Regions from separate parts of the Homo sapiens genome. Here region 1 is linked to region 2. Evidence: fine-mapped expression QTL. Tissue or cell type: whole blood. Region 2 holds a variant in brackets; the other region holds the start of a gene. All regions are shown on one strand. Distances are between the middles of the regions. Region 1 holds the start of CBR4 (carbonyl reductase 4). Region 2 overlaps LOC107986200 (a long non-coding RNA gene).

Evidence for each region.
Region 1: it holds the start of CBR4, and the variant in region 2 is fine-mapped to the expression of CBR4 in whole blood (INTERVAL, PIP above 0.99).

Annotation. Positions count from the first base shown.
Region 1 is chr4:169,003,200-169,019,384 of GRCh38, reverse strand. CBR4 (carbonyl reductase 4) reads left to right here and starts at 9,130. Exons shown (of 5, transcript NM_032783.5): 1 at 9,130-9,437; 2 at 11,629-11,749; 3 at 12,494-12,630. The coding sequence starts at 9,296. It overlaps CBR4-DT (CBR4 divergent transcript), which reads right to left and starts at 8,956. Exons shown (of 2, transcript NR_185919.1): 1 at 8,929-8,956; 2 at 8,325-8,601. It also overlaps the pseudogene RNY4P17. RefSeq lists enhancers at 1,174-1,674, 2,739-3,239, 8,751-9,080, 9,180-10,129.
Region 2 is chr4:168,947,649-168,963,833 of GRCh38, reverse strand. It overlaps LOC107986200 (a long non-coding RNA gene), which reads left to right. Exons shown (of 2, transcript XR_001741450.1): 2 at 1,215-1,309. It also overlaps a transcript of CBR4 not described here. Among named protein-coding and RNA genes, the nearest start is that of CBR4, 55 kb to the left of the region's middle. The variant C/G (reference allele first, on the strand shown) is at 8,040.

The DNA of each region.
Region 1 (16,185 bases), 56 kb before region 2:
TTACACAGCTTGTGGTAGAGCCAGAATTCAAATTCAGTAGACTAAACCCAGAGTTATATATGATGCTATATTGCCAGTTTTATATATATTTATGGAATTTTGCCTGAAACAGTTAGAGTGTATGTTGTGAATGAAAAGTATTCATGTTGTCATCTGTCACTTTTTTTATTTTTGGAGACAGGGGGTCTCTGTCTGTCACCCAGGCTAGAGTGCTGTGGCATGGTCACAGCTGACTGCAGCCTAGACCTCTTGGGCTCAAGCAATCCTCCCACCTTAGTCTCCCAAGGAGCTAGGACCACAGGCACGCACCACTACACACAGATAATTTTTCAATTTTAATTTTGTAGACACAGGGTCTTTCTGTGTTGCCCAGGCTGGTCTCAAACTCCTGAGCTCAAGTGATCTTCCCACCTTGGCCTCCTGAAGTGTTGGGATTACAGGCGTGAGCCATGGTGCCAGGCCTCTGTCACCTTCTAAGCCAATTCTTTTCAACTGATTTATTCCATCTCTATTTAGTAGAAGGGAAAAAGGATACATTCCATAGTTTTGGTTAAGGATCATCTACTTTATACTCATTTATTTAAAATTATTGTGGTTTAATGGCTAGCCTAGTAAATTAGCCAAATAAATTAATATGTCATTTTTAAAAATAAGGTGAATTTTGGCCCATTTTTTCCCACTCATAGGTTATATAGGGACCCATAAATATGTACTCCTCAACTCAGTAAGTTAAGCAAATTATGAGTATTACTTGCCAGAGGGGACTGATTCATATTCCTTATAGGATTGGTGTCTGTTTCACTTCTTAAAAATTCGTATCTCTCTCCTCATACATTATCACCTCCTCTTCCATTTCTCTTCATATTATTATATGTTGGGTGCTGGTTCTGGGACTCACTACTGGTTACTTGGAACAAAACATTTACAGATTTCATGGGGCATTGAGCTCAGCTAATAATATTTGAAAAAGAGAAAAAGGCAGTAGTCTGTTAAGGAGACTAAATGGTGTACATGTTGCATTTAAAACAGAGCTTATTTTGAGCAAAGATCCCCTAGGGGGATGCTGCTTGTATGGTGTATCTGATCTGCTGGGGAGCACATGCCCAGCCAAGCCTCCTTTAATAAGGCCGCCCACACTGAGCCCCTGTGGCAATGGTGCTTGGCTGCGGGTGCACCTTCCGCCTTTGAGCACCCCACTCACTCACATGGCAACCTGCCTCCCCCGAGAACTGCTCTCCACAGGCGCTAATCTATCCCCTCATTAACAACCAATCCAATTCTCTGTCTTGAACAAAGGGAGTCAGAGTTTAATCCCTTGAACTGAAAAGTCCTATGGGGCTCAGCCATTTTCAACTGTGTGATTAGTAAATAAAGTGGGTCTGCAGGAAGGAGAAATTTAAAACAGAGGACAGCAGAGAAGGGGGCTCTTACGGCCTCAGAGAGCATTAAGGGGGCAGAGGGATGTGCTGCTGTGGTCCCTGGGGCTCCCAATGAGGCCCATCTCTAGTTCCACGGGGTCCCAGCTTGCTTTTTGTTGATGTCATATTCTGCATCATAAACACATATTTGAATTGCTTTCGAGGGCTTCTCTTTCTTGCAGCCAAAAAAGAATCTCAACTACAATTACAACTATCTAAAGTCAGTTTCCAGATTTGGATTTATGTGTATATGGTACATTTTCAGGATTCCTGGGAAGATGAGGGAGAGACAATATCATGTAGTGGTTGGGGAGAAGGCTCTGTAGCGAGACTGCTTGAGTAGAAATTCTACAAGTTCTGCCACTTACTAGTTGTGTGATCTTGGACAATCTAACATCTCTGTGCTTTGGCTTCCTTGTTTGCAAACACAAGGGTAGCAATATTTTTCTACATCATAGTTTGCTGTGAGAATTAAACACAAGTAGACAGTGTACTTGGCACATAGCATTTAAGTTATCCAATGAGCATTTGCTGTTATCTTGGTAAGGGCTTACTTTTGTTTTTTGTTGTTGTTGTTGTTGTTGTTGTTGTTTTTTGAGACAGAGTTTCACTGTTGCTGCCCAGGCTGGAGTGCAATGGTGCAATCTTGGCTCACCGCAACCTCAGCCTCCCGGGTTCAAACGATTCTCCTGCCTCAGCCTCCCGAGTAGTTGGGATTACAGGCATGTGAAACCCGGCTAATTTTGTATTTTTAGTAGAGACAGGGTTTCTCCATGTTGGTGAGGCTGGTCTCGAACTCTGGACCTCAAGTGATCCACCCGCTCTGGCCTCCCAAAGTGCTGGGATTACAGGCGTGAGCCACCGTGTCTGGCCAGTAAGGGCTTACTTTTACACACCCACCCACCCACCTACACACTCTCACAAACACATGTATACACATACATATAATAATGCATACATACCTATAATGTATACCTATAATAAAATATACACATGTGTATATATGTATACATATATAGATGTCTACACACACACATGCCCCCCTGCCTATTTGGCCTGAGCCTGAAGCTCTATGTTCCTATAGCACTTCATTCACATTTACAGCCTTTATCACACTGTATCGTAATCTGCTTATTTGTCTGTTTCTCTCAACACATGTGAGCTCCACAATTCAGGTAATTGCCTTCTTTGCCCTCTTATCCCCAGAGCTTTACATCTGATACTGGGGATGTTCCTGAGCTCGCAGTAGATTCATATTGTTGGACAGGTAGATGCTAGATGATATTTCCCTGTTAGATTGTCATCCCTTTAGCTTAACACTTGGCTCTCGGCTCAATTTACATGTCCCTAGGTGACATAACACTTTATGCTGTTACATTATTTACCACCTAGAGGGAATGAATTTCCAAGTCCTCCCTGAAAGTAAGCTTTGGCAAGAAGATAGGAGAGGACCTCGAGGGGTCTGGATGCTGCAGGCCATGGGCAAGTGACGAGGATGAGATTCACAATCTTCCTGTTTCTGCTCTGGAATAGGTCTCATAGTAACAACCTCTCCCCAACTCAACTCACACAATCAGCAGTGGCTGTGTGATATTACTTAGCAGCACTTTGCAGCTTGCCTGTAGTAGAGAAGAAAGTAAACAGTCACATTGTATCTGCTGGGACTGCCATAAAAAAATACCACAGACTGGGTGGTTTCGACACCAGAAATTAATTTTCTCACAGTTCTGGAGCCTGAAAGTCTGAGATCAAGGTGCAATCGTGTTGGTTTCTGGTGAGGCTTCTCTTCCGGGCTTGCAGATAGCTGCCTTCTCACTGTGTCCTCACATGGCCTTGTACAGGGAGGCAACAGAGAGAGAGAGAGACAGAGAGAGAGAGAGAGAGAGAGAGAGAGAGAGAGAGAGAGAGAGAGAGATTCCCAGCACAAGCTCTCTGGTGTCCTATTGGATTAGAGCCCTACCCTTAGAACCTCATTTAATCTTAATTATCTCCCTAAGGGCACTATCTCCAAATACAGCCACATTGGAGGTTAGGACTTGAACATATGAATATGGCAGGAGAGGGGGGAGCGGGGAGGGACACGATTCAGTCAATAACATACATTAATCCCAAGTGGAGGCTTATTTTAATTAAGTTTTGTGTATGGCCCAAGTTTTCTACTCTGCATAACTGTTTAATCAAAATCCAAACTGAGAGATGGGTCTCTGTAGCCTGTAGATGAGAAACAAAAAGCAGTGATCCTTAAAATGAGATCCCTACAGGCACACGGGTGCCTTCTGGAAATGCAGAAGCCATTACCTGCAAGTCAGTTTCAAATGTTAAACCATACAGTATCGATTCTGGCTTTCCCAGGTGACTTGCAAGAGTGAGAACGTCTTTCAGAGCCCAAGTGCAGTGAAGGCTGCCAGGCCCGTGCCTCTGATACAGATCTAGGAGTCTGAGTAGCCGCAGGGCCTGGATGGGAAAGGCTCACTTAAGTCTGGGAAATGCAGCAGGTGAGTTGAGAGCCACGTGAGACTATGCAGCCAGAAGGATAGAGGGGGGAAGGCCCTGAAACAAAGAGATGGAAATGGAATAGTGAGAGGCTGGGGTCAGAGGATTGAGGCCAGTCTTAAAACTAATTTCAGGAACACTGAGTTCTCCTCTTCTATGTGGCTTGGCAGGCGTGCTGCATTTGGGGCCTGATTTTAAGTATCCAGAGCTGGCTTTATACCATTATAAAATTTTTGGCTGGGAAAAAAAAAAGAGTTTCATAAAATTTCAGGCATTATGCTCTCCCATGGTACTTCCTGGTGAAATGTCCAACCTGTGATCTCATCTAGGCGTAATACTAACTCTACTTTGACTAACAATCTCTTTCATTATTAAGGGTGAATTTTTAATTCAGAATTTTATTCTTCATGTATAAATTATGTTATCACCTAGTTGGCTTTGTAACATAATGAATGGATAGTAGCTGTAGTTATCATTCTTTGCAATCTTTCTTTGTTATTATTCATTTACTTTATAGAACATTATGTCCTGAAAGAAGAAGCCTTCTCTGACCCCAGGCCTCCATATTGGATCAATGCCCCTAGTTATGATCCCTCCTAGCAGCCTGTACTTCTCCTTTATAGTTCTTCCCACCATTGGAATTAAATAGTGATGGCATGATTAATTGTTTAATGTCTGTCTTCCTTGCCAGATTATTTTCCCAACGAAAACAGGCACCAGGTCTATCTTAATCATAGCTGTATCGACACTGGTTCTTGCTTATAGCAATAAATTCCTTTTAAGTGAGTTATTTCATTCACTCATTGATTCATTTGTTAACTCATTTATTTAGCATTCACAAGCCCTAGGAACTGTGCTACAAACAGGGAAACAAAAACCAATGTGATCATTTCTGGATTCAAAGAGTTGGCAATTAAAAACAGAAAGTTTTTAACCATTTTATTTTATTTTTTATGTTTTTTTAAAAAAGATGAGGTCTCACCATGTTGCCCAGGCTGGTCTCAAATGCCTGGGCTCAAGTGATCCTGCCGCCTCCATCTCCCAAAATGCTGGGATTACAGGCGTGAGCCACTACACCTGGCACTTAACCATTTTAGGTGAAAGTTCCCCTTGAGAACCCAGTGAAGGAAGTGGACCCTCTTTCAAGAAGCTACTCATCTAAAAAGCACATGAGATTTTGTATTCAGCTTGGTAGGTTCACAGATCCTTGAGAATCTATTCACTATCTTCCTAAAATTATGTGGATTCTGACGTCACAGTAACTCCATGAAATACAGACTTGAAGACACATACAAGGTAAGAGGACGGGTAAAGAAGGACATCAGCATGTCCTCCTTTGGGTCAGGAGAAGCTTCCATTGCAAGAGATGTTTGAGCCACATTTTGAATGATAAATCAGATGTTACCAGGGAAAGCAGTGGGAGCATTCGAGGTTGAGAAGACAGTGTTTGGAGAAGCATGGATGTGTAGAAGTTGGAATGGTATTTAGGGAGTAGAATCAGCAGGACTTTGTGACTGATTGGATGTGGGATGTTGAGAGAGGGAAGGAATAAACTCCATGCTTCTGCCTTAGGCAACTGAGTGCCAGGTTTAGGTCTCGGTGGGCAGCCTCAGAGGCATAAACGCCAATTCAACAAAATAACAAGCTCATGGGCCACATTTTTTGTTCCCAATCAAAATGAAATAAACTTTTGTAAGTGATAAAAAGTACATTCCTTACAATTTAGATTACCCAGCAGATTGGATACAAGAATGCCAATGAGGAAATCAACATGCTTTTTAATCATAAAAGTTATATCTGTGCAGCCACACTAAGGCAGCTTTCTAATCTTTCTTCTTGAAAGAAGAGCATGGTCTGTATGGAGAAGTTAGCTGGCCACATGCAATTTGGGTCGTGCAGATTATCATCACTGCCTGAAGAATCCTGGGAGACTGCTTGCTGGCAGGAAGGGTTATGCTTCAATTATGGATCTGATAAGCTGGATGTGCTTAGTATGGTGCATTTGTAAAGAGGATTCTCAATGAATATTCAATCATAATTCATAAATTTCTTATAAATAAATTTTCCTGCATATTTGGAATCTTGGGCATTATAAATCTTGACGTATGAAAAAAATATTCATGAAAGGTACAACCCCCTTATAATTAGTTGCAGATTCAAATTTCGTATAACAGGGCAGTAGGCTTTAAATTACATCTTTTTCAATAACAGTTCCATTGGGATATAATTTGCATACGATACAATTCACACGCTTAAAGTGTACAATGCTTTCAATGAGTTTTTATTTACTTTAAAAAGTTTATGTTTTCTAACTGTTAGCAATTAAATGGTATTCCTTTTGTAATCAGAAAAGTAATACTAGGTATGCATATTTAAAAATTTGTATAACAGTCCTTATACATAAGGAATTTTCTCCTTCGATTGTGGGAGCCAAGAGAAAATATATCCTATGTGGATTTAAGTTAAAGTATAACATATGGTTAAAATATTACCACAAAAGTGGCATGTTTAGTGAGAAGGAAAGACTAAAGGTGGGTCATTCTAATGGCTTCCTTCAATGTCCTGCTGGGTAGGGGAGACCCAGTTTAATTTACAGATCCTCACTTCACTATCAGGGGCTTACAGAGAAACTTCCCCTGCTGTAACCTTCTCAGCTAATGGGTGATGTGCTGTGATAGATGTATTCTCACCCGGGATAGTGGTGATATTGTATTAAGAGGGAAAAAAAATAAATAATAACCTTGAGGTTTAACCTGAGGTATGTGTTGAATAAAAAGCCCAGCTTATCCATTTACAGTATATATACAGTGAGAAAAGTTGGAAGGTTTTCAGAATTCTGAATGTCACCTCATATCATGTGTTAGTGATCTTCATGATAGATGGCATAGATCTAAAAACCATTTTTTTTTGCTAAAATAACAATGTGTAGAAAAAAAAATAATCATTTTCCTAGCAAATGGAGAGAACTGTTCAAAAGATAAACCTCTCTGGTTTGACCTAAGGTGCAGGAATACAGTTGGCATTTAGGCTGACCCTTATATTGGTAATTTATGTAAAACAGTTTTTTCTTTCCAAGATTGCATAGTGTATAGTAGGAAAGTGAATAGACAAATTTGATCTGACCCATTTTTACATCACTGGGAAACTGTTTGTTTGTTTTTTAGAACACTGTTATTTTGAGACAGGGTCCTGCTGTGTCATGCAGGCTGGACTGCAGTGGTGCAATCATGGCTCACTGCAGCCTTGACCTCCTGGACTTACATGATCCTCCCAACTCAGCCTCCCGAGTAGCTGGGACCACAGGTAGGCCACCATGTCCAGCTAATTTTTTTTTGTATTTTCTGTAGAGATGGGGGTCGGGGGGGTGGGGGTCTTGCTGTGTTTCCTGGGTTGGTTTTGAACTTCTAGACTCAAGCAATCCTCCTGTCTCAGCCTCCCAAAGTGCTGGGATTACAGGCATGAGCCACCACGCCTGGCCTGCTAATAGTTCTTAAATGCAGCTCTTATCTTATTACTTCTGCAGTTAAAGGCCTGTTTAATGCTTGGCACCTGACTTTAAAGCTGACTATAATATAGCACCATCCCAAATTTCCTCAGGCTTGTTTCCTCATTGTTTCAAACATATATTGTTTCAAAGACACAATTTTTATGTGTGACTGTTTGCTTATATTGTTTAACTTCCTATTGTATTTGCTTTTAATAAAGTCTAATAGATGCTATGAAAACAGCCTTACAATCTCTTTTTCTTTTCATGAAGCTCACTGTCTACTACAATGCTTAGTGTGCCATTTAGGAGGACCTATGAGGAGGGAGTTTTGCTCAGGCTTCTCTGCTGCATAACCAGGAGGCTGATTTCTTACAGAAATTACCACTTGTAATTATATTTCCTTTGTTGCTTTCGCTGGCAGGAAACTCTAAGTTTATGAATCTCTTCTTTAATACTAAATAGATTCTTATAGCATGACTTTATTCGTATTTTTTCCACTGACCTAATTTATTGTTCTGGCCTTGTGGGAGAAGGGGCAGTGGTCCTCTTTGCCTTTTAAATTCAAATACTCATGTATTTTTGCAAACCATTTCAAATCTTTTTTTGGATCTAAATGGAATAGGAATAACAAATTTAAATTAATGCTCAACTTGCTTATTTATAGACTTTTTGCTCTTGTTTTCCTTTTTTCAAACCTCATCCAGCCCTCAAATCCAGCTTTTCCATGCACCCCTTCATTCTTCACTGATCTCCATTTTCTCGGAGCTCTTGTGTTAATATAATTTTGCATTTTACTAAGTATGATTTTGGATACCTCCTAGTGTTTCATGTGTATTAGTCCTGTAGTTCTGGGTTGTAGTTTTTTTAGTGGTAGGGACCATGGCTCATACTTTTCTGAATCTAGTAAAATAATATTGTATCAGAAATGCTTTCTGTTTACACTATAATTGTAACAAACATTGAATTTTTTAGCTTATTAACTCTCAGAGCACCCAGTACATCTTATTTAGAATTGCAGGAACCCATTTTTGTTTCTCTACAGCAGCCGAAGCTTGTTTCATAGATCTTGCAAGACTATTCAATCATTCAGTTAAAATTCCTTGACCTCCTGCTGGATGATGTTCGACAGGGCATTCATCTTCACGACACCCTTCGCGATGAATGGTAACATCTGGGCGGGTAGAGGTCCATTTCTACAGCAACCTGGGGGAGGAACAGGTAGGGTAGGTTTTGGTGTGGGTGCGATTCTTGGGGACTTCTTCAACAGGTAGGACATCAAGTCTGTAGCCAAAACAACACCTGGGCGAAGGGCAAATACCGGAGCCCCGACCGGCTCACGCCCAGTAATGCTTTCTCTGGGTTCTAACTACGTGATCAGGTCGTCTTGGTTTGCCAGGGAAAGCCCAGCGTCTTGACAACCCTGTCAGTTCCGAACAAACCGGGTCGATTGGTCACCGGGGCTCGAATCCCGACTGATATGACCCAGCGGGGACAGAGGATCCCCCTCAGTGCCACAAGTACATTCCCCACCGAGCAGCGCGCCTGCGCCAGTTGCTCTCATGCGTCAAGACTACAGGTCCCAGCAAGCATCGAGGCCCTCTCCAGGCCATTCTTCCGCCGGCGGGGAGCTCTCGTCGGCGTATTTGTTAGGTGTGGCGCGGAAGAGTCCGTGCGTGATGACGTCGACGCGGCGACGTCGAGCTCTTCCTCCTTTTCACGGCGTCTTGCATTACTATTGTGCGGCTGCAGGAGGTGTCGAGCGGCGTTATTTTTTTTTGCGGTTTGCCTTTTTTTTTCTTTTTTTTTTTTTTGGAACCGCGGTTGTTTAAAAGCCTGAGGGAACCTGGAGAGGGGCTCCCACTCCCTACCCTCTTTCCTCCGAGTTTGTGACTCCGAGATGGACAAAGTGTGTGCTGTTTTTGGAGGCTCCCGAGGCATTGGCAGAGCTGTGGCCCAGTTAATGGCCCGGAAAGGCTACCGACTGGCGGTCATTGCCAGAAACCTGGAAGGGGCCAAAGCCGCCGCCGGTGACCTCGGCGGTAGGTACCAAACTGGAGTTGTCCAGTTGTATGGCCGCGGTCCAGGCGCCTAAAGAAAATCTCCTTTGTAAAAAGAGCGGGTCTGGCCTTTAGGGCTCTAGGGTTACTCGATGTAGCCGCGTGCAGGCGCTCTCCCGTTCCAAGGGTAGAATGCGTCTCGTGCAGAAACCCGCGATCTCCCTATGCCTCGCAGAATGCCGGCCACGCAGCTTGCCGCCGAGGGCTGAACACTTGGGGTGTTCTTTGAGACCTCGTAGTCTTTTGAGGCCCCGCTATACGCACCCTCCGCCCTGCGGCTAGTGCTAACGCTGAGGAGCTTCCCTGTTGTGGGAGAGAGCCACGTAACAGTTTACTTTTAATGTAGGGAAAAGGGCGAGTTCTCGGCCCCCGGAGACAGGGCTGGGTCGAAAGGAGTTCAGGCAGGAAAGGTGGGAGTGCAGGTACCAACGGCTCCCTTCAGTTTTGCCCAAGGGCCGTGCCTTGGCCCTGCGCGAATGCACAAAGCAGTGTTTGATAGAGAAACCCTTTTGAGTACCAGCCAGTTTTGAGATATACCTGGTTTGCTTTAATGTTATTAAATTGTTTTGGTGAGTTTTGCAAATGGACAATTGAACTTTGTTCTGCCAAATTCTTTTTTATTGCATTTAAACTTCAGGGTTTTTTATTTCCGGCTTATTATGAATGGATTAGTCATTTTGTGAATATAACTCTTCATTGAGTTTAGGGAGAAATAGGACGTTAGATCCGAAGATGCTATTTGTTTAATCACCAGAATGGACAAAATTATACTTCATTTACTATCAGGGAGGCATGGGGAGAATAGAGGCCTAGGGGTGCGTCTTGTGGCTCTTACTGTTTTTGTGTATCTGGTTTTTTTTTTTTTTTTTTGAGAGGGCTTCCCATTATGTTGCCCGTGCTGGACCCCAACTCCTGATTTACTGGCTCTAGAGATCTTCTCGCCTCAGTCTCCCAAGGACCTGGGACTATAGACGCCAGGTGTGGCTGTTCATTTTTAAGTTAACATTATTGATCGGTTTGGTATCACCTGTTCAGTGCTGGTTGGGAGACTATTGGGCTCTCTAAAAGAAAAAAGATTCTGTAAGTTATAGGTCAGGGAGAGTGTCAGTGAATGCTTCTTGAAGCTCATATTCCTTACCATTCTAACAAAGGAGGGGAAGAGTGGTGACCCTTACTGTGTCACCCCAAGCCATCAGTGTTTGCTGGACTGGATTGAAGCCATTAGTTGGGCTTTCAAAGGTGGTTGTGGACACAAGTCTTCGGGTGAAAACCAAGAGTAAGAGAGACACAGGATGCTTTTGGGCCCTGCATTCCTTTGAATCGTGTTCCATGAGTGATTGGTTTTCATCTAGAAAGTATAATTCCCCGGGTCGCTTACTGTTTCCAAAGGCTTGATGGGGTAGTGTTGGTGTAAGCATATTTATCAAGGTCAGACAGAAAATAAAGAATTGTTTTAGCTTTTAAAAACAATCCTACATTTTAGAGTATTAAAATGGTAGATTACATAGGGAATGCTTTGTTTTCCTTTGAAGTGTAGTTTTTTTTTGGCATTTAACCATTTTTTAAAAGTGGTAAGTAACAGTTGCTTTTAGTAAAAAGTGTTTTTTTCCCCCCGTGGTTTGTAGTTTTAGCATTTTTATAGCTTCCTGTGTTGTCTCATCTCTCCTGATGGTCAGGTTTGAATAATAGTCGTTATAATATATGTGCCATAGTGCATCCGTAGCACTTAAAAAGAAGAAACCCAAGAGTTCCCGTTCAGGGCCAAAGAAACTAATTCAACAAAAACCTGACAGAATTAGACATAAATTTCAAAAAAGGAATATAAAACCCAGAAGACTGTCGAATTGGGTAGCATGAATTCAGTGTTAAAGCTATAAATATTAGATGAATCTTACAGAGCCTTTATAACTTGAAAAAGCCCTCCCCCCTTTGTTGATTAAAAAGAAAATTTTAAAATTAACTTTCTGTAGTAGTACTTTATTTCCTCTTTGTTCCCGCATCCCAGTTTCATTAGACCAACTCTATGAAAGCCAGGCCTCATGACATTACTTTTTTAATCTTTAGGTTCTAGATTAGCACAGGCCTGCCATCTTAGATAGATGCTTAACAAATGTGTATTGAGTAAATTTAAAATTTGAGTTATAAGTAATTCTTATTTAACTTTGTTGTGTAGGAGATCATTTGGCATTTAGCTGTGATGTTGCTAAAGAACATGATGTTCAAAATACATTTGAAGAGCTGGAGAAACATTTAGGTCGAGTAAATTTCTTGGTAAATGCAGCTGGTATTAACAGGTTGGTCACAGATTTAAATAAGTTTCTTATATATATATTTAAAACTTTTATTCCTAATATGTCTTTGATTGGTATAAGTTAATATGTTTATTTTGCTTCTAACTGGGAGAAAAAACTATTTTAAAACTTGTCAATCCATAAATTATTTTCCTTTATATTGAGATACAACATATAATAAATGTCCAGTTGAGTCGATTTTAACATTGTAATCATCACCCATATTGAGCCGTAGAATGTTTCCAGTGCTCCAGAAGGTAGTGTCTTCTCAATACTTCCTTGTTGGTAACTGTTTTCTGAGTTTTGTCACCACAGATAAGTTTTGCCAGTTTGTGAACTTAATACTAATAGAATCATGGAGTGGATATTATTTTTTAAAAGATGAATTTAGGAGAGAATATTTAGATAACATATTAATTTTCTTGCTAAACAAGGCTTAGTATGGCAGTTGCTCAGGCCATTCAAACTATTTTGGCTATATGTTACTACTTTTTAGGGGTTAAGAATATTTGCCACTCAAGCTGAGAAGGGGTAGCAACCTGTCTTCCAAGTGGATCCTTTCTGGTTTATCAATTGTTATTTTAATGTTTCTCAAGCCAAGTTCAAAATGGGACTCTAGGTATTCTAGCTATTCTAGCTCAGATAGGAAGCACTTCTTGCACTCTCAGTAAAAATGTTACATTAGTCTTGACCTTTTTGGTTTTTATCTTGTTATTATATGCTATTATATGCTGTTTCTTTTTGTAGGGATGGTCTTTTAGTAAGAACAAAAACTGAAGATATGGTATCTCAGCTTCATACTAACCTCTTGGGTTCCATGCTGACCTGTAAAGCTGCCATGAGGACTATGATTCAACAACAGGGAGGGTCTATTGTTAATGTAGGTGAGTCTTCACCTTTGTGAATTTATGATTATCCCATAATACCATACCATAAAAATATTTAATCCACGAATTTGTGATTTATTGTGAAACATGAATGAAATTTATATTATCTGTGGAAAAAAGGATTTAATTAATTGATTAATGAGTAAAATAAGAATCACACATTCACATCCCTATAGGAGTCAGGCAGGTGTTAAATGAGTGACACCACTGAGTACTAGAAAAATGACAGTACCAGCCATGTGATAAATGATATCCAGCTTCATTGTCCAGAGCCCATATGGAATGGTGGAGGCCACCACTTAGATTCAGTAGATTGTTGCCGTGCAAGAATGTGGTCCCAGTTTTGCCAGCAATTTTGATTTTTCAAGAGAAATTGGATCATTCTGATTTTTATGTGAATTTTTTTTTTTTTAAATAGAGACGAGGTCACACTATGTGGCCTAGGCTGGTCTTTAACTCATGGGCTCAAGTGATCCTCCCGAAGTGCTGGGATTATAGAGGTGAGCCACGTGCCCAGCCAGGAACCTGATTTTTAAAACATGGACAAGGAATTAAAGTAGACAGTGGTGGCTAAATAATATTGTCTACAGCAGTTTCATGGGTTACTGTTAAATCTTGTGTAGAGGTTTAAAGGAAGATAAAATTTCTCTGTTTTTAAGAATGGATGTAAGTAACCCCTAGTTTTCAGTTCATCTAACCCACAGGGCAGATAAGCTGTGGAGTATATGCCTGTAGAACTTAAAATGCAAAATGACTTGAAATTTTATTTCAGTTTGGTAATTTGGAAATAATAGTATACCATCTGCTTTTTATTTTCAAATGGTAATACCTTAAAAGGCCACAGAAGGGAGATGCTGCTCCATAAAAGTAAGTGACCCTGTTCTTTTAAATGTAGGAAATGGTTTTTCAAGCCAGAATTTAGAGTTTTTCTGTTTTGAAAGTGAGAAAAGGAAAGAATACTATGCTAATAAACTAAGGGGACATGAGAGCATTTTGGACATTTACTCTTAAAAATTTAAGGGATCCGTTTTCTTATGTAAGAGATTAGTCAATGAGTCAACCTTTGCCTTTTAACACAGCCAGATAAGGACTTTGGATACTTACAAGCAGGCAAACAGGCCTGTATCTGTCACCTGATAACCTGAGGTATATTTGTTTAACTCTAAAATCTTCTTTTTTTTAGGTGTATTTAAAAAACCCATTAGTCCTCCTTATGCATGCAAAACTTTTAGAATTGAGCTAAAAGTAAATAATAGATAGTAAATTGAGAATCTTACTACAGGAAGGACTACTTTAAACTGCCAGACACTTCATTGGTATTTCAGAAATTACCACTTTTTGACCTGATGAACAGTAGTGCGTGGCACGAATCAAAGCTGCTAAAGCAGCTTGTGTTTTTTTTTCTTTTAAAAGCCACTCATATTTAGCAGTTGGGGGTTGTATACTAACTTTAGTGACACTACTGTTAATAGGTTCTGATAACCCGCTACCATCGGACCAGCCCTGTTTTGGTATTTTTTTCGTGCATGTATTTTTCTTTTTTTGTGTCTCTGTATTTTTCTTTCTGATAAACACCCCTCTATCCATATGCATTTCTTCAGTCTGATGTCTGTTCTCTCTGTGTACTTCACAGTTCTCTTCCTTTGTTATTAATTGGCCTACAATATATAATGTAGATAAATATTCTAATACTGAACTTGTTGATTCTAATAGAGAAATGTTTGGAATGTTTTCTTTTTTTAAAATTACTTTAAAAAAATTTTGTGAGGTCCTTGATTAATTTTTGTATCATAAGTACAGGTCAGTGGTGCAGAAAATTACTTCCCCACTTCTGTTTTGCAAGAGTTTATTTGCATATAGTTGATATTTGAATTAAAAATTATTATTACATATTCATTAGATGTGGTCACTCAAGAATCTTCAGTAGGCAGTACAGTTTACAATATATCACTGAATGTAATGAAATTGCACTTTTACAAAAAGTGTATAATTGAAGCTTTGCCAATTTAGATTGACAGTACAAGCATGTCTCGCAGATATTGTAGCTTTGGTTCTGCTCCACCGGAATAAAGCGAATATGTCAAGAATGTAAGTCACACAAATTGAATTGCTGCAATCTCATGATAAAACAAATGGGTGAGGAGTTGCTTCTTATGTATGGATAAACAAAGTTGTTTCTCAAGATGGAATCTACTTGTGAAGATGTGAATACTGTTGAAATGACAAAGGATTTAGAATATCCTATAAACTTAGTTGATAAAGCAATAGCAGGGATTGAGAGGAGAGGCTCCAATTTTTAAAGTTCTACTTGGATAAAATGCTATCAAAGAGCATCACATGCTGCAGAGAAATCTTTCATGAAATGAAGAGTCAATCAATGTGGCAAATTTTGTCTTATCCAATTGTTTAGTTTCTCAGTGCATGTAAAAGTTATATTATGGTCTATTAAGTATGCAGTAGCATTATATCTAAAAAAAATGTAAATACTTTGTTGCTAAAAAAATACTTTATTGCTAAAAAATGCTAATGATCATCTGAGCTTCTGGCAAGTCATAATCTTTGCTGGCGGAGGGTCTTGCCTTGATGTTTATGGCTGCTGACTGATAATAGTGGCTGTGGCAATTTCTTTATTTTTTTTATTTTTTTATTTTATTATTGTTATACTTTAAGTTTTAGGGTACCGTGCACAATGTGCAGGTTAGTTACATATGTATACATGTGCCATGCTGGTGTGCTGCACCCACTAACTCGTCATCTAGCGTTAGGTATATCTCCCAATGCTATCCCTCCCCGCTTCCCCCACCCCACAACAGTCCCCAGAGCGTGATGTTCCCCTTCCTGTGTCCATGTGTTCTCATTGTTCAGTTCCCACCTATGAGTGAGAACATGCGGTGTTTGGTTTTTTGTCCTTGCGATAGTTTACTGAGAATGATTTCCAATTTCATTCATGTCCCTACAAAGGACATGAACTCATCATTTTTTATGGCTGCTTAGTATTCCATGGTGTATATGTGCCACATTTTCTTAATCCAGTCTGTCATTGTTGCACATTTGATTTGGTTCCAAGTCTTAGAATAAGACAAAATTTGCCACATTGATTGACTCTTCATTTCGTGAGAGATTTCTCTGCAGCATGTGATGCTGTTTGATAGCATTTTATGCAAGTAGATCTTTAAAAATTGGAGCCACTCCTCTCAATCCCTGCTATTGCTTTATCAACTAAGTTTATAGGATATTCTAAATCCTTTGTCATTTCTTTCAACAGTATTCACATCTTCACAAGGAAGAGATTCCATCTTGAGAAACAACTTTGTTTATCCATACATAAGAAGCAACTCCTCACCCATTTGTTTTATCATAAGATTGCAGCAATTCAGTCACATCTTCAGGCTCCACTTGTAATTCTGCTCCACTGAAGTCTTGAACCCCACAAAGTCATCCATGAGGGTTAAAATAACTTCTTTCAAACTTCTGTTAATGTTGGTATTTTGACCTGCCATGAATCACAAATGTTCTGAATGGCATATAGAACGGTGAATCCTTTCCAGAAGG
Region 2 (16,185 bases):
TCTTGGAGCATCCCTCAGCAACCTATTCTGTGGCTGATGGTACAGTAGCTATTAATAGTTTATACAGGAGGTTGGGCGCGGTGGCTCATGCCTCCCACCACTTTGGGAGGCTGAGGTGGGCAGATCACCAGAGGTAAGGAGTTCGAGACCAGCCTGGCCAACATGGTGAAACCCTGTCTCTCCTAAAAATACAAAAATAGCTGGGCATGGCGGTGGGCACCTGTAATCCCAGCTATTTGGGAGGCTGAGGTAGGAGAACTGCTTGAACCCAGTAGGCGAAGGTTGCAGTGAGCTGAGATCACACCATAGGACTCTAGGCTGGGTGACAAGAGTGAGACTCCATCTCAAAAAAAAAAAAAAAAAGATTTATACAGGAGTTTCTGAATTTGCTAATGTTCTTGGGAACTCAGGTGCTCTAATTGTCAATCCATTGTGGCATAAGACATCTGTGTTCTGTTATCTTCTCTGAATGAGTAAGTAACTCTGCTTTCAACAGTTACCCACCTTTTTGAAGAACATCTGACTAATTTATGAAGTATCTGGATTTTAAAAATTATTAGCATTTTAATTTTTCCTAGCTGAGGTGCTATGATAACATCAGGATAAAACTGGCTTTTGGCAGTCAGTTGTGCTGAAATCAACCACAATTTAAGTCAGGGCTTGACCATCCAAATCTTTCTGAGTGCTTCCTCAGTCCTTTCCGTTAGTTTCAGTGGAATGAACATGGATTTTGAAATACTGGAATTAAAATTCTGTTTTAGCACTTACAGTTTTATTTGGACAATTATTTAAACTATCTGAATGATAGGTTCCTAATGCTCAAAATGAGGAGTATACTTGTTAAAGTATAAGTGTTTGAAATACTTTGTATCTAGTAGACATTTAATACAGGTTAGTCCCCCTTCTCTTCTCTGTCTTTAAGAATTCCAAAACTGTTTTTGCCCCTTGGGTTCTATGACATCTCACTCCTGATTTTCTTCCTCTTTCTGATTTTCTTTATTGATTTCCTTTATGTGCTCCTTTACTCTGCTGGTCTCTTAGCTGTTGATTTCTCAAAGTTCTGTCCTGGGCTGTCTTCTTATTCAACACGTTTCCATTAGCAATCTAGATACTTTTTATAAAAATGCTTATAATATCCAAGTATATCTTCACTTTAGCTTTTTTTATAGTTTGGATTCATATATTTAACTGTATTTTTCTTGAATATCCTACAGATTCCTCAAATCCAACATGTACAAAATGGAACTCATCATCTTTCTCTACCAACCAGCAATTCTTCTGTGTTCTTAATCTTAATATTCACTCTCAATTATTTAGTGGATCAAGCCAGAGACCTGAGTATTATCCTCAAGTCTTTCTTCTCTTCCATCCCGTACATTTACTCATTAATCATATCTTATTAAGCCTAATTTCCAAGCAACCTTGAGTTCTTCTAACCCCTTCCATCCTGATATCCATTGACGTGGTCCAGACTTGGAAAAGTATATCAGCAGTAAATCAGAATGCCTACTTTATAACATCTCCACCTGTCTTGAGTTATAAAAACACTTTGCTGTGAATGTAATATATGGTTGTGTATTTTCCATAAAATATTTCGCTTTCAAGAAGGGGAGAGAGTAGAAAAAAAAATCCTTAGTTTTTGACTTACCTTTTAATTTTAGGATTTTATTTGAAATACATAGTAAAATGGTTTTCCTTTGTGTTTTCTTTCATTGCTGTACTCTTTCAGAGATTACCTAATTTTTAATTGTTTACATCTTTTTTCTTTTTAAAAACGTTTAACTCTTTAATATAATGGTTTTTTTTTTGGCCTGCTTGCCTTCCTCCTCTCCTTTCCTTTCCTCTCCTCTCCTCTCCTCTCCTCTCCTCTCCTCTCCTCTCCTCTCCTCTCCTGTGCTCTCCTCTTGTTCTCCCCTCCCCTCCCCTCTCCCTTCCTTTCTTTCTATGACAGAGTTTCACTCTGTTGCCCAGGCTGGAGTGCAATGGCACGATCTTGGCTCACTGTAACCTCCGCCTCCCGGGTTCAAGCAATTCTCCTGCCTCAGCTTCATGAGTAGCTGGGATTACAGGCGCCTTTCGCCATGGCCAGCTAATTTTTGTATTTTTAGTAGAGACGGGGTTTCACCATGTTGGCCTGGCTGGTCGCGAACTCCTGACCTCAGGTGACCCACCTGCCTTGGCCTCCCAAAGTGCTGGGATTACAGGCATGAGCCACCACACCCGGTCTCTTTTTCTTTTCTTTTCTTTTAAATATAGTGTTTTTAAAGCTATTTTAGTTCATGGATCTCATGGAGAAACTGGAAACTGTGGACTTTCCACCTAGAAAAGTACACATATTGAATTTTACATTTTTAGGGGTTTCACAGTAGACAGCCAGAAACCTGTCCGTGAATGTTTTAGATTCTTTTGGATAAAGCATCTCTAAACTGTCTAGAAATTCTTTTTTGTTCATAATATAATATTCTATAGATATTGAGACAACTCTTTACATACAAGACAGAATAAATTTAGATATATATATGTAGAAAAGACATAAGATTTACAGTTTCTAACTTACTTTTCAAACACTTGGCATAGGGATGAAAACTTGGCACTTAGCTCCTTGTTTAAATCTGAATCTGCAACTGAGCAAGGTATTCATATGATTTATGTCTCAGAGTTAGTGCCAGTCATAGAAAAAAAATTTCAATAGGACAAAGAAAGCGTCAGTATCATCTCTTGCCTTTCAGTTGGTCAGTGCTGCTTTTATGCTGTTACCTAGTACCCATAACCACCGTCTTGTAATACGTGATCACTTTCTAGGCTCTAAAGTTGGCTGTCCCCATCAAATTCTCTTGTGGAATTGCTCAGCAAGCAGTTTGAGATTGGATAGAGCTCATTCAGATTTTGGTGTTCATGACTAATAATTTCGACCGGAAACAGCTTGTGCTTATAGAGTTGTGTTATTATCTAAGTTGAAATAGATGCCACCGCATACCTACCAGCATAATCTAGCAACAGGAAACATGCTCATTTTGGTAAGAGGTACTCTCTCTTCTAACATAAAGACTTTTAAATCTCAGCAAACTTATTTCTTTCTTGTGGCAATCTTGTTTTTAAGAAAGTACATGGATTTAAGAAAGTAAATATTAATATGATCACTTACACTATATTCAAGAGTAGTTTCATGTAGTACTTATTCTAATAAAGGTGTTTTTAAAAAGGAAATAGTAAATAGCATCTATACAGCATTTACTGTGTTCTTGGGTTGGAAGACTCAATATTGTTAATTGATCTGTATATCTTTTCAGTACAACTGATAGTATACAATAGTAGAAAAATGTATTTCTTCTATCTGAATGCCTCTGGTGAACTTCTCTGGATCCTTTAAGACTTCCTGAATATTTTATACATTCTCTAGTTATAGCATATACTGCATATATTAAAATGATTTACTCATTTTTCCACTAGATTGTGAGCTTATGTAGTATTTGTTATATGGTTCCATGTTTCTCCTCCCTTGTTTTGGTACTTTCAAATAATAGTAGACACTGGAGAAATGTTTACTGCGTTAAAAACAAAAACAAAAGTGGTTAACTTTGAGATAATGTGGCTATAATGTGTTTATGAAATAATAATTCCATGTAGAAATTACCCTCTTTTACCAGATAAATTGTACCAAAGACAGAGAGTTCTGCTTCTTGAATGGCAGCAAACAATAGGAAAATGGGACTAAATTCCATTTACAGTAGCATTAAAAACCATAACACTTAGGAATACATTTAACAGAAGTATAAAACCTGTATGTTGAAAATTAGGTAATATTGATGGAGAGAAATTAAAGATCTAAATAGACAAATTTACCATGTTCTTGGGTTGGAAGATTCAATATCGTTAACATGTTAGTTTTCTCTAACTTGATCTGTGTATAAATTCAGTACTATTCAAATACAAATTTCAGAAGGTTTTTTTTTTTTTTTAATAGAAATTGAGGCTGGGCGTGGTGGCTCACGCCTGTAATCCCAGAACTTTGGGAGGCCGAGGCAGGTGGATTACGAGGTCAGGAGTTTGAGACCAGCCTGACCAACAAGGTGAAACCCCATCTCTCTAAAAGTACAAAAATTAGCCGGGCATGGTGGCACATGCCTGTAATTCCAGCTACTCAGGAGGCTGAGGCAGGAGAATTGCTTGAACCCTGGAGGTGGAGATTGCAGTGAGCCGAGGTCATGCCACTGCATTCCAGCCTGGGCAACAGAGTGAGACTCTATCTCCAAAAAAAAAAAAAAAAAAAAAGAAATTGATAAGCTGATTTAAAAATTTGTGGTAATGTAAACCACCGAGATTAGCCAAAGCAGTTTTATAAAAGGTGAACAAAATTGGAGAAATTATACTACCTGATTTTAAGATGAACTATGATGTGACAGTAATCAAGACAGTGTGGTATTGGTGAAAGGATAGATATATAGATCAGTGGAACTAAAGAGAGAACCCAGAAGTGGAGCCACACAAGTATGGTCAATTGATTTTTGACAAAGGTGCCAAGGCAATTTCAGTGAAGAAAAGGAAAGACTTTGAGCAAATGGGGTTGGAACAACTGGATAGCCATGTGAAAAAAATGAACCTTAATCCCTACTTCACACCATACAAAAAAATTAATTTTAATGGATACGACATAAATCTAAAAACTAAAACTATAGAACTTCTGGAAGAAAATGTAGGACAAAAGTGACTTTGGGGTAGGCAGTGATTCCTTAGATAAGACACCAAAAACATAAACCATACAGAAAAAAAATGGTAAATTGGGTTTTATAAAAATCAAGAAATTTTGCTCTTTGGAAGATATCATTAAGAAAAGGAAATGAAAAAGAAAGTCACAGACTAGGTGAAACTATATATATACATATATACATGAAAAAGGACTTTTGACCAGAATATATAACAGACTCCTAAAACGAATAATAAGACAACAAAATAAAACATGGCCAAATGATTTGAATAGACCTTTCACAAAAGATATCTGAGTAATTGTAGATATGTGAAAAGATGCTCAGTAGCTTTAGTCACCAGGGAAATGCAAAGTAAAACCACAATGAGATACCACCAGATATCCATTAGAATGGCTGAAAGGAAAAAGGCTGACAATACCAATTGGGGATATGGAGCAACTAGAACTTTGTTGCCGGTGGGAATGTAAAATGTTACAAACTGCAAAACTGGCATTCTCTTAAAAAGTTGAACATAAACTTAACATAAAATTCAGCCATTCTACTCCTACATATTTTCCCAATATAAATAAAAATACGTGTTCACACAAAGATTTGTATATTATTGTTCATAGCAGTTTTATTCGTAATAGCCAAAATTGTAAGCAATCCACATATTCATTAATAAGAGAATGGATAAACAAAATATAATCTATCCATACAATAAAATATTACTTAGGAATACAAAACAACTATTATACACATAGATAAATTGCAAAATAATTATGCTGAGTGAAAGAAGCCAGATTCAAAAAAGAGTATGTATTCGTCTGTTCTCATGCTACTATAAGGACATACCTGACAGTGGGTAATTTTTTTTTTTTTCCTGAGATGGAGTCTTGTTCTGTCACCCAGGCTGGAGTACAGTGGTGTGATCTTGGCTCACTGCAACCTCCGCCTCTTGGGTTCAAGCAATTCTCCTGTCTCAGCCTCCCGAGTAGCTGGGATTACAGGTGCTCACCACCACGCTGGCTAGTTTTTGTATTTTTAATAGAGACGGGGTTTCACCATGTTGGCCAGGCTGGTCTTGAACTATTGACCTCGTGGGTAATTTATAAAGGAAAGAGGTTTAATTACTCATAGTTCCGCAGGGCTGGGGAGGCCTCAGGAAACTTACAGAGGGGAAGCATGGCAAGCATGTCCTTCTTCACATGGTGGCAGCAAGAAGTGCTGAGTGTAGGCAGGGAAAACCCCTTATAAAACCATCAGATCTCGTGAGAACTCACTATCACGAGAACAGCATGGAGGTAACTACCCCCATGATTCAATTACCTCCCACTGGGTCCCTTCCACGACATGTGGGGATTATGGGAACTACAGTTCAAGATAACATTTGGGTGGGAACACAGCTAAACCATATCAGAATTCATATTGCGTGATTCCAGTCATATAAAATTCTAGAAGATGCAAACTAATCTACCATAGCAGAAAGCAGAACAACAGTTGTCTGGGCCTGGGAGTGAAGGCAGGGGTGGACTACAAGGTGCATGAGAAAACTTTTATAGGTGGTGGAAGTAGTTTGTATCTTGATTCTGGTAGCAGTTTCGTGGGTGTATATGTTTTCACAATTCAGATACACTTTAAATGAATGAGTTACACCTCAGTTAAGTTGGTAAAAACAAAGGGAGGATAGCAGTGATGGGAGAAGGTTTCTGAATTTTGGTTGAGGAAACAACCTGGGGCACACAGCATTGGAGAACAAAATTTCCCCCTACCTACACTAAGGGGTACAATGTTTAGTCTTGTAGTGACTAGTCATATGTCATCTAGTGTGATGTTTGTCAAAGCGATTTTTTACTCTTTTAATTAGAAGCCTCTTCAAGAGTAAGTAAATCATTTTTAATTTAGCCTAAATAAGAATGTTTAATATTGGTTTCCTCCTCTGAAAGCTTTTGAGTGATAAAGGCTTCAAGTGAATGGTGGCGATGTAGTGTTCAGAATATATTCTGAAGAGACAATTTCTTCTTCCTGAGAGTGATGGAAATCTATGCCTCATCTTTAAATCACTTTAGCTGACGCACATATTATTTAAGTATCTGTGGGCATATTTGAAATTAATACCTACTGCTTTTGCCAGGGGGAAGATAGGAATCTTGTTCATGTATATCTTTACTGGAATTTTGAGTGATGTCTTATACTACTCATCTACTATAAGGTGATTATGTTACTAATTCTTAGTGCCCTTTCATAGATGTGAAACATCTCAGTATAGGGTTTCACGTATTTTGCAGGGAGGTTAATGGAAAGATAAGGCCTTTGGAGCCAGATAGTTCTGGTTTCAAGTTCCAGTTCTGTAACTAATCGTGCTTTTGGCAAATTATATCCTTTCTCTAAGCCTGTTTCCTCACCTGGAAAAGAGAATAACCCTTCCTACACTTATTGTAAGGATTAAATGAAATAGCGTTAAGGTACTGGTGTAAACCTGGCATATAGTAAGTACTTAGTAAATATTATTTCCATTCTGTTTTTTTTTTTTTTTTTTTTTTTTTTTTTTGAGACAGGGTCTGGCTGTGTCGCCCAGGCTGGAGTGCAGTGGTGCAGTCTCAGTTCACTACAACCTCTGCCTCCTGGGCTCAAGCAATCTTCTCCCCTCAGCCTCCTACATAGCTGGGACTATAGGCACACGCCACCGTGCGTAACTAATTTTTGTGTTTTTTTTTGTGGAGACAGGGTTCTGCCATGTTGCCCAGGCTGGTCTTGAATTTCTAGGCTCCTGCCTTGGCCTCCCAAAGTGCTAGGATTACAGGTGTGAGCCACTGCACCCAGCCTATTTCCCTTACTCTTGATAAGGAATGCTGGTGTATTGTATCTGGGGTCCTCCCTGTATCTGGGGTCCTCCCAGTGCTGGAAGCATTATGTTTCGTATTCCAGTCTTTTCCACTTTGCTGATATACATTCTGAGCCTTATTTTTCAAGTCCTATTTTCAAATTTATTCATTTTGATCTGAAACATATGGGTTCTGAGCAGTATGATTTCTGGTTTGTTCACAAAATGTTAACTCTGATCTATATTGCTGAACATATCTCAGAGAGTGAATACTTGTTCTAAAAGCAGTGCTGCTGTGCCGATTGTATTTTATATACATCAGACACTTTAATCCCCTTACTTAAGGGGTCAGTTAGAAGTAAATATTTGTGCCCATAGGTTATTAAGGAGCTGCCAAGCAACCATGAAATTTTCCCATGGTACTAGGGTCTGACTCATTTTAATCTCACCTTTCTCTGTGGTCAAGTTGTACTGAGCTCAGATTAATCCCTTGTGGCCATTGCTGCTGCATAGCTGGCAGCTTTTATGCT[C/G]TAGGCCCATAGTCCATGGTCTGTCCTGACCGGTCTCTTGACATATGCACTTGATGTCAGTTCTAAGGCTGGTTTTCCCAGCCTTTAATCTTTGATCCATAGTTGGGGCAGGTTGGGGCTAGGGATGGGGATATATTCCTACAGGATACTTTGGAGTGCTACCTTCCATAGTAATCCTGCTTTGCTTTACAATTTTCCACTCACTCACTCTTGTGAGTGAGAAATGTGACCTAAGCTACAACCTGAAAGCAATGAAAGAGAAAACTATAGTAGCATAAAATATGTTCAGCTGTCTTTGAAAGAGTGTCTACTATCCATAGCTCCAGCAATACTGTTACTTTTAATCACAAAAACCACAATTACTTTTGCACCAACCTAACAGTGTTTGTTTAAATTTAGCTTTTCTATTTATCAGTTATATATTAACATTATTTGGAGAGTCATTTCCTATTTCTCAAAGAGAATCACTTTAATCTCTGATTCATTTGGTATTAGCCCCCTTATTTATAATTTATCATATTTCTTGATTTTTCAGAATTAGGCCTCATGTATTGACTTCTCAGTAAGGAAGAGGAGGATTTACCTCTCTTTGACTAGCACCCTACATTGCTGTATGCAAGCATACTTCCCATCCTGCCATCCTCCAATATAGTTATATCATAATCATTAACTACATTATGACAATTACATAAATATAATTCACAGCTAAACTATGTAGGATTTGATAGTTACTTTTCCTTGCCTGCACAGTATTTTGTTTTTCCTGGAATTGATAATTCTATTTCTTGTTCATTTAATTAGTTATCTGTGTTCTCAACACTAATTCATTAATTCCGAACCATTCTCAGTTGTATAAATATCCTGTTCATATCATTCAGAAACATTGAGTAATTTATCATTTTCTTATCTTGAATAAATATTTCCTGGAGTCTTCTGATCTGTTCCAATCTTGACTGATTGTTTTCTGCTGCATAGCTGTTGTTTAGGGGCGGTATCATCTTGTGGATTTTCTTTGCCTATCTAATACGTTGGATCCTCTCTTCCATGGATCTCATGTCTTCCTTTTCATGGTTTATGACTTCATTTGGTGGAGTACATCTTCAAGTAACTTTCTGAAAAAATGTGTTTGGGAGACAAAATATTTGAGACCTTCAGTATTTGCAGATGTTTTAATTTCCCATATACTAAATTGACTGAGTGTAGAATATGCTATGGTTTAAGTACCCCCTCCAAAACTCATGTTGAAATTTAATTGCCATTGTGATAGTATTAGAGGTGGTACTTTTAAGAGGTGATTAGGTTATGAGGGTGGAGTTTGCTTGCCTTTCTGCTTTCTGCTATGGGATGATGCAAAAAGAAGGCCCTCACCAAATGGCCAAGCAGATGCTGGTACTATGTCTCAGCCTTCAGAACCATGAAGCAAATAAATCTCTTTTCTTTATAAATTACCCAGTTTGTGGTATTCTTTATAATATCAGGAAATGGACTAAGACAGAATACTAGCTTGGAAACATTTTCCTCAGAATTTTGAAAGAATTGTTTCATTGTCTTAAGTCTTTCAGTGTTGTGCTTAAGAAGTTTTAAATAAAATGTATTTTATTTGTGTGTGTGTGTATTTGCCTCTGGAAATGCTCAGGACATTTTCTTTGCTTTCATTGTTATAACATTTTATTGTGGTAGTCTTTGATTTAGGTCTTTTTTCATCTGTTGGTGGATTCCATAAATCTCTCTTTCTCTCTTTTTGGTCCTACTTTCTGGGAGATTTCCCCAGTTTTATCTTCAAACTATATTTGAGTCTTTAATTTTAGCTACTTATTTTTTACTTTCTGAGAGTTCCTTTTCTAAATATTCCTTATCTATAGCATCCTGTGCTTGTTTCCTGGATGCAGTGTCTTCTGTTATTTCTTTGAGCTTGGACAAATTAATAATAGAAGTTTTCTTCTCTATGTGCTCTAACTTTCCAAGCTTCTGTATTATTTAGATCCCTGTCATATTAGATGCTGTCTTAAAATGTTTGGCAATCTTTGGCTATCTTCTTAGGCTTAACAGTGGAGTGTTAATAAGCAGATTGGGCTGGACATTGTGGCTCACTCCTATAATCCAAGCACTTTGGGAGGCTGAGGCAGGAGGATCACTTGAACCCAGGAGTTCGAGACCAACCTGGGCAACACACGAGATCCTGTCTCTATAAAAAAAAAAAAAAATTAGCTTTGCAGGTGGTGCATGCTGTGGTCCCAGCTACTTGGGAGGCTGATGTAGGAGGATTGCTTGGTCCAGAGACGTTGAGAGGCTGCAGTGAGCTGTGATTGTGATTGTGCCACTGCAAAGGCAACGGAATGAGACCCTGTCTCCAAAAAACCAAAAAAAAAAATGCAGATCAGAGTGAATGTAGGTTTTATTAAGCCTCTAAATCTACTGTTTACCTCTGGATCCAGCTGCCAATTTGTAGGAAATAGAAATACTGAGGACACAACCCTGCTTGCCCACTGTCTGGAAACAGAAATAGATGCGGTGCTTTTGCGGGGGGGCACGGTGGGAGTAAGACCGGCCTTTCGGATTGTGTGGGAGCTGAGTGAGGCCTGTGACTGCTGCCTTTCCCTCACTTCGCTGACAACCTACATGACTCAGCAGAGGCAGCCATTATCCTCCCAGGTACACAACTCCATTGACCTGGGAACCTCACCCACATCCTCCACAGCAGCTGCAGCAAGACCTGCCCAAGGAGAGTCTGAGCTCAGACATGCCTAGCCCTTCCCCCACCTGCTAGTCCTTCTCTACCCGCCCTAGTAACTGAAGACAAAGGGCATATACTCTTGGGAGTTCTAGGGCCCTGCCCACTGCCAGTTCCTCTCCATACTACCACAGCTGATGCCCTCTGGAAAGAGCCACCTCCTGGCAGGAGGCCAACCAGCACAAAAATAGAACATTAAACCACCAAAGCCAAGAATCCTCACAGAATCCATTTCACCCCCCTGCCACCTCTACCGGAACAGGTGCTGGTATCCATGGCTGAGAGACCCATAGACAGTTCATATCACAGGACTCGTGCAGACAACCCCCAGTACCAGCTTGGAGCCTGGTAGACTTGCTGGGTGGCTAGACCCAGAAAAGAGATAACAATCACTGCAGCTCGGCTCTCAGGAAGCCACATCCATAGGAAAAAGGGGAGAGTGCTACATCAAGGGAACACCCTGTGAGACAAAAGAATCTGAACAACAGCCTTCAGCCCTAAACCTTCCCTCTGACAGAGCCTACCCAAATGGGAAGCAACTAGAAAACCAACTCTGGTAATATGACAAAACAGGGCTCTTTAACACCCCCCCAAAATCACACTAGGTCAGCAGCAATGGATCCAAACCAAGAAGAAATTTCTGATTTACCCCAGAAAGCATTCAGGAGGTTAGTTATTAAGCTGATCAGGGAGGCACCAGAGAAAGGTGAAGCCCAATGCAAGGAAATCCAAAAAATGATACAAGAAGTGAAGGGAGAAATGTTCAAGGAAATAGATAACCATAAAAAAAAAATCAAAACTTCAGGAAATATTGGTCACACTTATAGAAATGCAAAATGCTCTGGAAAATCTCAGCAATAGAATTGAACAAGTAGAAGAAAGAAATTCAGAGTTGGAAGTCAAGGTCTACAAATTAACCCAATCCAACAAAGACAAAGAAAAAAGAATAAGAAAATATGCATAAAGCCTCCAAGAAGTCTGGGATTATGTTAAACAACCAAACCTAAGAATATTTGGTGTTCCTGAGGAGTAAGAGAAATCTAAAAATTTGGAAAACATATTTGGGGGAATAATTGAGGAAAACTTCCCCAGCCTTGCTAGAGACTTAGACATCCAAATACAAGAAGCACAAAGAACACCTGGGAAATTCATCGCAAAAATATCATCACCTAGGCACATTGTCATCAGGTTATCTAAAGTTAAGACGAAGGAAAGAATCTTAAGAGCTACGAGACAAAAGCACTAGGTAACCTTTAAAGGAAAACCTATCAGACTAACAGCAGATTTCTCAGCAGAAACCCTACAAGCTAGAAGGGATTGGGGCCCTGTCTTCAGCCTCCTCAAACAAAAACAATTATCAGCCAAGAATTTTGTATCCAGTGAAACTAAGCATCATGTATGTGGGAAAGATAGTCTTTTTCAGACAAACAAATGCTGAGAGAATTTGCTACTACCAAGCCACCACTACAAGAACTGCTAAAAGGAGCTCTAAATCTTGAAACAAATCCTGGAAACACATCAAAGCAGAACCTCTTTAAAAGCATAAATCTCACAGGACCTATAAAACAAAAATACAATTTAAAAAGCAAAAACAAAAAACCACAGTACACAGGCAACAAATAGCATGATGAATGGAATGGTACATTGCATCTCAGTACTAACATTGAATATAAATAGCCTAAATGATCCACTTAAAAGATACAGAACTGGCCAGGTGCAGTGGCTCACGCCTGTAATCCCAGCATTTGGGAGGCCGAGGCGGGTGGATCACGAGGTCAAGAGATCGAGACCATTGTGGCCAACTTGGTGAAACCCCATCTGTACTAAAAATATAAAAATTAGCTGTGCGTGGTGGTGGGTGCCTGTAATCCCAGCTACTTAGGAGGCTGAGGCAGGAGAATCGCTTGTACCTGGGAGGTGGAGGTTGCCGTGAGCCAAGATTGCACCACTGCACTCCAGCCTGGTGACAGAGCGAAACTCCATCTCAAAAAAAAGAAGAAAAAAAGATATACAGAACCACAGAATGGATAAGAACTCACAAACCAACTATCTGCTGACTTCAAGAGACTCACTTAACACATAAGGACTCGCACAAACTTAAAGTAAAGCGGGGGAAAAAGGCATTTCATGCAAATAGGCACCAAAAGTGAGCAGGGGTAGCTATTCTTATGTTAGACAAAATGAACTTTAAAGCAACAGCAGTTAAAAAAGACAAAGAGGGACATTATATAGTGATAAAAGGCCTTGTCCTACAGGAAAAGATCACAGTCCTAAATATATATGCACCTAACACTGGAGCTCCCAGTTTTATAAAACAATTACTAACAGACCTAATAAATGAGATAGAAAGCAACACAATAATAGTGGGAGACTTCAGTACTCCACTGACATCACTAGACAGGTCATCAAGAAAGAAAGTCAACAAAGAACGGATTTAAACTATACCTTGGAACAAATGGACTTAATAGATATATACAGAACATTTCATCCAACAATCGGAGACACTTTCCATTCAGCAGTGCATGGAATTTTCTCCAAGATAGACCATATGATAGGCCACAAAACGAGCCATAATAAATTCAAGAAAATTGAAATTATATCAAGCACTCTCTCAGACCACAGTGGAATAAAACTGTAAATCAACTCCAAAAGGGAAACCTACAAAACCATGCAAATACATGAAAATTAACCTGCTTTTGGGTCAAAAATGAAATCAAGATGGAAATTTAAAAGTTCTTTGAACTGAATGACAGTAATAACACAACCTATCAAAACCTCTGGGATACGGCAAAGGCGGTGCTAAGAGGAAAGTTCATAGCCCTAAATGCCTAACAGAGCACAACAGACATTCTAAGGCCACACCTCAAGGAACTGGAGAAAGAAGAACAAACCAAACCCAAACCCAAACCCAGCAGAAGAAAGGAAATAACCAAGATCAGAGCAGAACTAAATAAAATTGAAACAACAACAAAATGCAAAAGATAAATGAAACAAAAAGCTGATTCTTTGAAAAGATAAATTAAACTGATAGACCATTAGGAAGATTAACCAAGAAAAGGAGAGAGAAAATCCAAATAACCTCAATAAGAAACGAAATGGGAGATATTACAACTGACAACACGGAAATACAAAAGATTATTCAAGGCTACTATGAACACCTTTACCCACATAAACTAGAAAACCTAGAAGAGATGGATAAAGTCCTAGAAAAATACAACCCTCCTAGCTTAAATCAGGAAGAATTAGATACCCTGAACAGACCAATAACAAGCAGCGAGATTAAAATGGTAATTTAAAAATTAACAAAAAAAAGTCCAGGACCAGACAGATTCACAGCAGAATTCTACCAGACATTCAAAGAAGAATTGGTACCAATCCTTTTGACACTATTCCACAACATACAGAAAGAGGGAACTCTCCCTAATTCATTCTATGAAGCCAGCATTACCCAGATGTGGAAAAAGCATTCGACAAAATCCAGCATCCCTTTATGATTAAAACTCTCAGCAAAATCAGCATACAAGGGACAATACCTCAATGTAATGAAAGCCATCTGTGACAAACCCACAGCCAACATAATACTGAGTAGGGAAAAGTTGAAAGCATTCCCTCTGAGAACTGGAACAAGACAAGGATGCCCACTCTCATCACTTCTCTTCAACATAGTATAGGAAATCCTAGCCAGAGCAATCAGACAAGAGAAAGAAATACAGGGTATCCAAATCGGTAAAGAAGAAGTCAAACTGTCACTGTTTGCTGACGATATGATTGTTTACCTCGAAAACCCTGAAGACTCCTCCAGAAAGCTCCCAGAACTGATAAAAGAATTCAGCTAAGTTTCTGGATACAAGATTAACATACACAAATCAGTAGCTCTTCTACACACCAAAAACAACCAAGCAGAGAATCAAATCAAGAACTCAACCCCTTCTACAATAGCTGCAAAAAAATTTAAATACTCTGGAGTATACCTAACCAAGGAGGCTAAAGACCTCTACAAGGAAAACTACAAAACACTGCTGAAAGAAATCACAGATGACACGAACAAATGGAAATACATCCCATGCTCATGGAAGGGTAGAATCAATATTGTGAAAATGACCATACTGCCAAAAGCAGTCTACAGATTTAATGCAATCTCCATCAAAATACCACCATCATTCTTCACAGAATTAGAAAAAACAATTCTAAAATTCTTATGAAACCAAAAAATTGCCCACATAGCCAAAGCAAGGCTAAATGAAAAGAACAAATCTGGAGGTATCGCACTACCTGATTTCAAACTATACCATAAGGCCATAGTCACCAAAACAGCATGGTACTGGTATAAAAACAGGCACATAGACCAATGGAACAGAATAGAGAACCCAGAAATAAACCCAAATACTTAACAGCCAACTGATCTTCGACAAAGCACACAAAAACAAAGTGGGGAAGGGATACCCTTTTCAACAAATGGTGCTGGGATAATTGGCTAGCCACATGTAGGAGAGTGAAACTGGATCCTCATTTCTCACCTTATACAAAAATCAACTCAAGATGGATTAAGGACTTAAATCTAAGACCTGAAACCATAAAAATTCTAGAAGATAACATTGGAAAAACCCTTCTAGACATTGGCTTAGGTAAGGATTTCATGACCAAGAACCCAAAAGCAAATGCAATAAAAACAAAGATAAATAGCTGGGACTTAAACTAAAGAGTTTTTGCATGGCAAAAAGAACAGTCAGCAGACTAAACAGACAACCCACAGAGTGGGAGAAAATCTTCACAATGTATACATCTGACAAAGGACTAATATCCAGAATCTACAGTGAACTCATTAAGATAAAAACAAACAGTCCCATCAAAAAGTGGGCTAAGGACATGAATAGACAGTTTTCAAAAGAAGATATACAAATGGCCAACAAACATACGAAAAAATGCTCAACATCACTAATGATCAGGGAAATGCAAATCAAAACCACAGTGTGATACCACCTTACTCCTGCAAGAATGGCCATAATGAAAAAATCAAAAAACAGTAGGTGTTGGCATGGCTGCGGTGATCAGGGAGCACTTCTACACTGCTGGTGGGAATGTAAACTAGTACAACCACTATGAAAAACAGTGTGGAGATTCCTTAAAGAACTAAAAGTAGGATTACCATTTGATCTGGCAATCCCACTACTGAGTATCTACCCAGAGGAAAAGAAGTCATTATATGAAAAAGATACTTGCACACACATTTATAGCAGCATAATTCACAATTGCAAAATCGTGGAACCAACCCAAATGTCTATCAATCAATGAGTGGATGAAGAAACTGTGATATATATGTACGGTGGAATACTGCTCAGCCATAAAAAGGAATGAATTAATAGCATTCACAGCAACCTGGATGAGACTGTTATACTAAATGAAGTAACTCAGGAA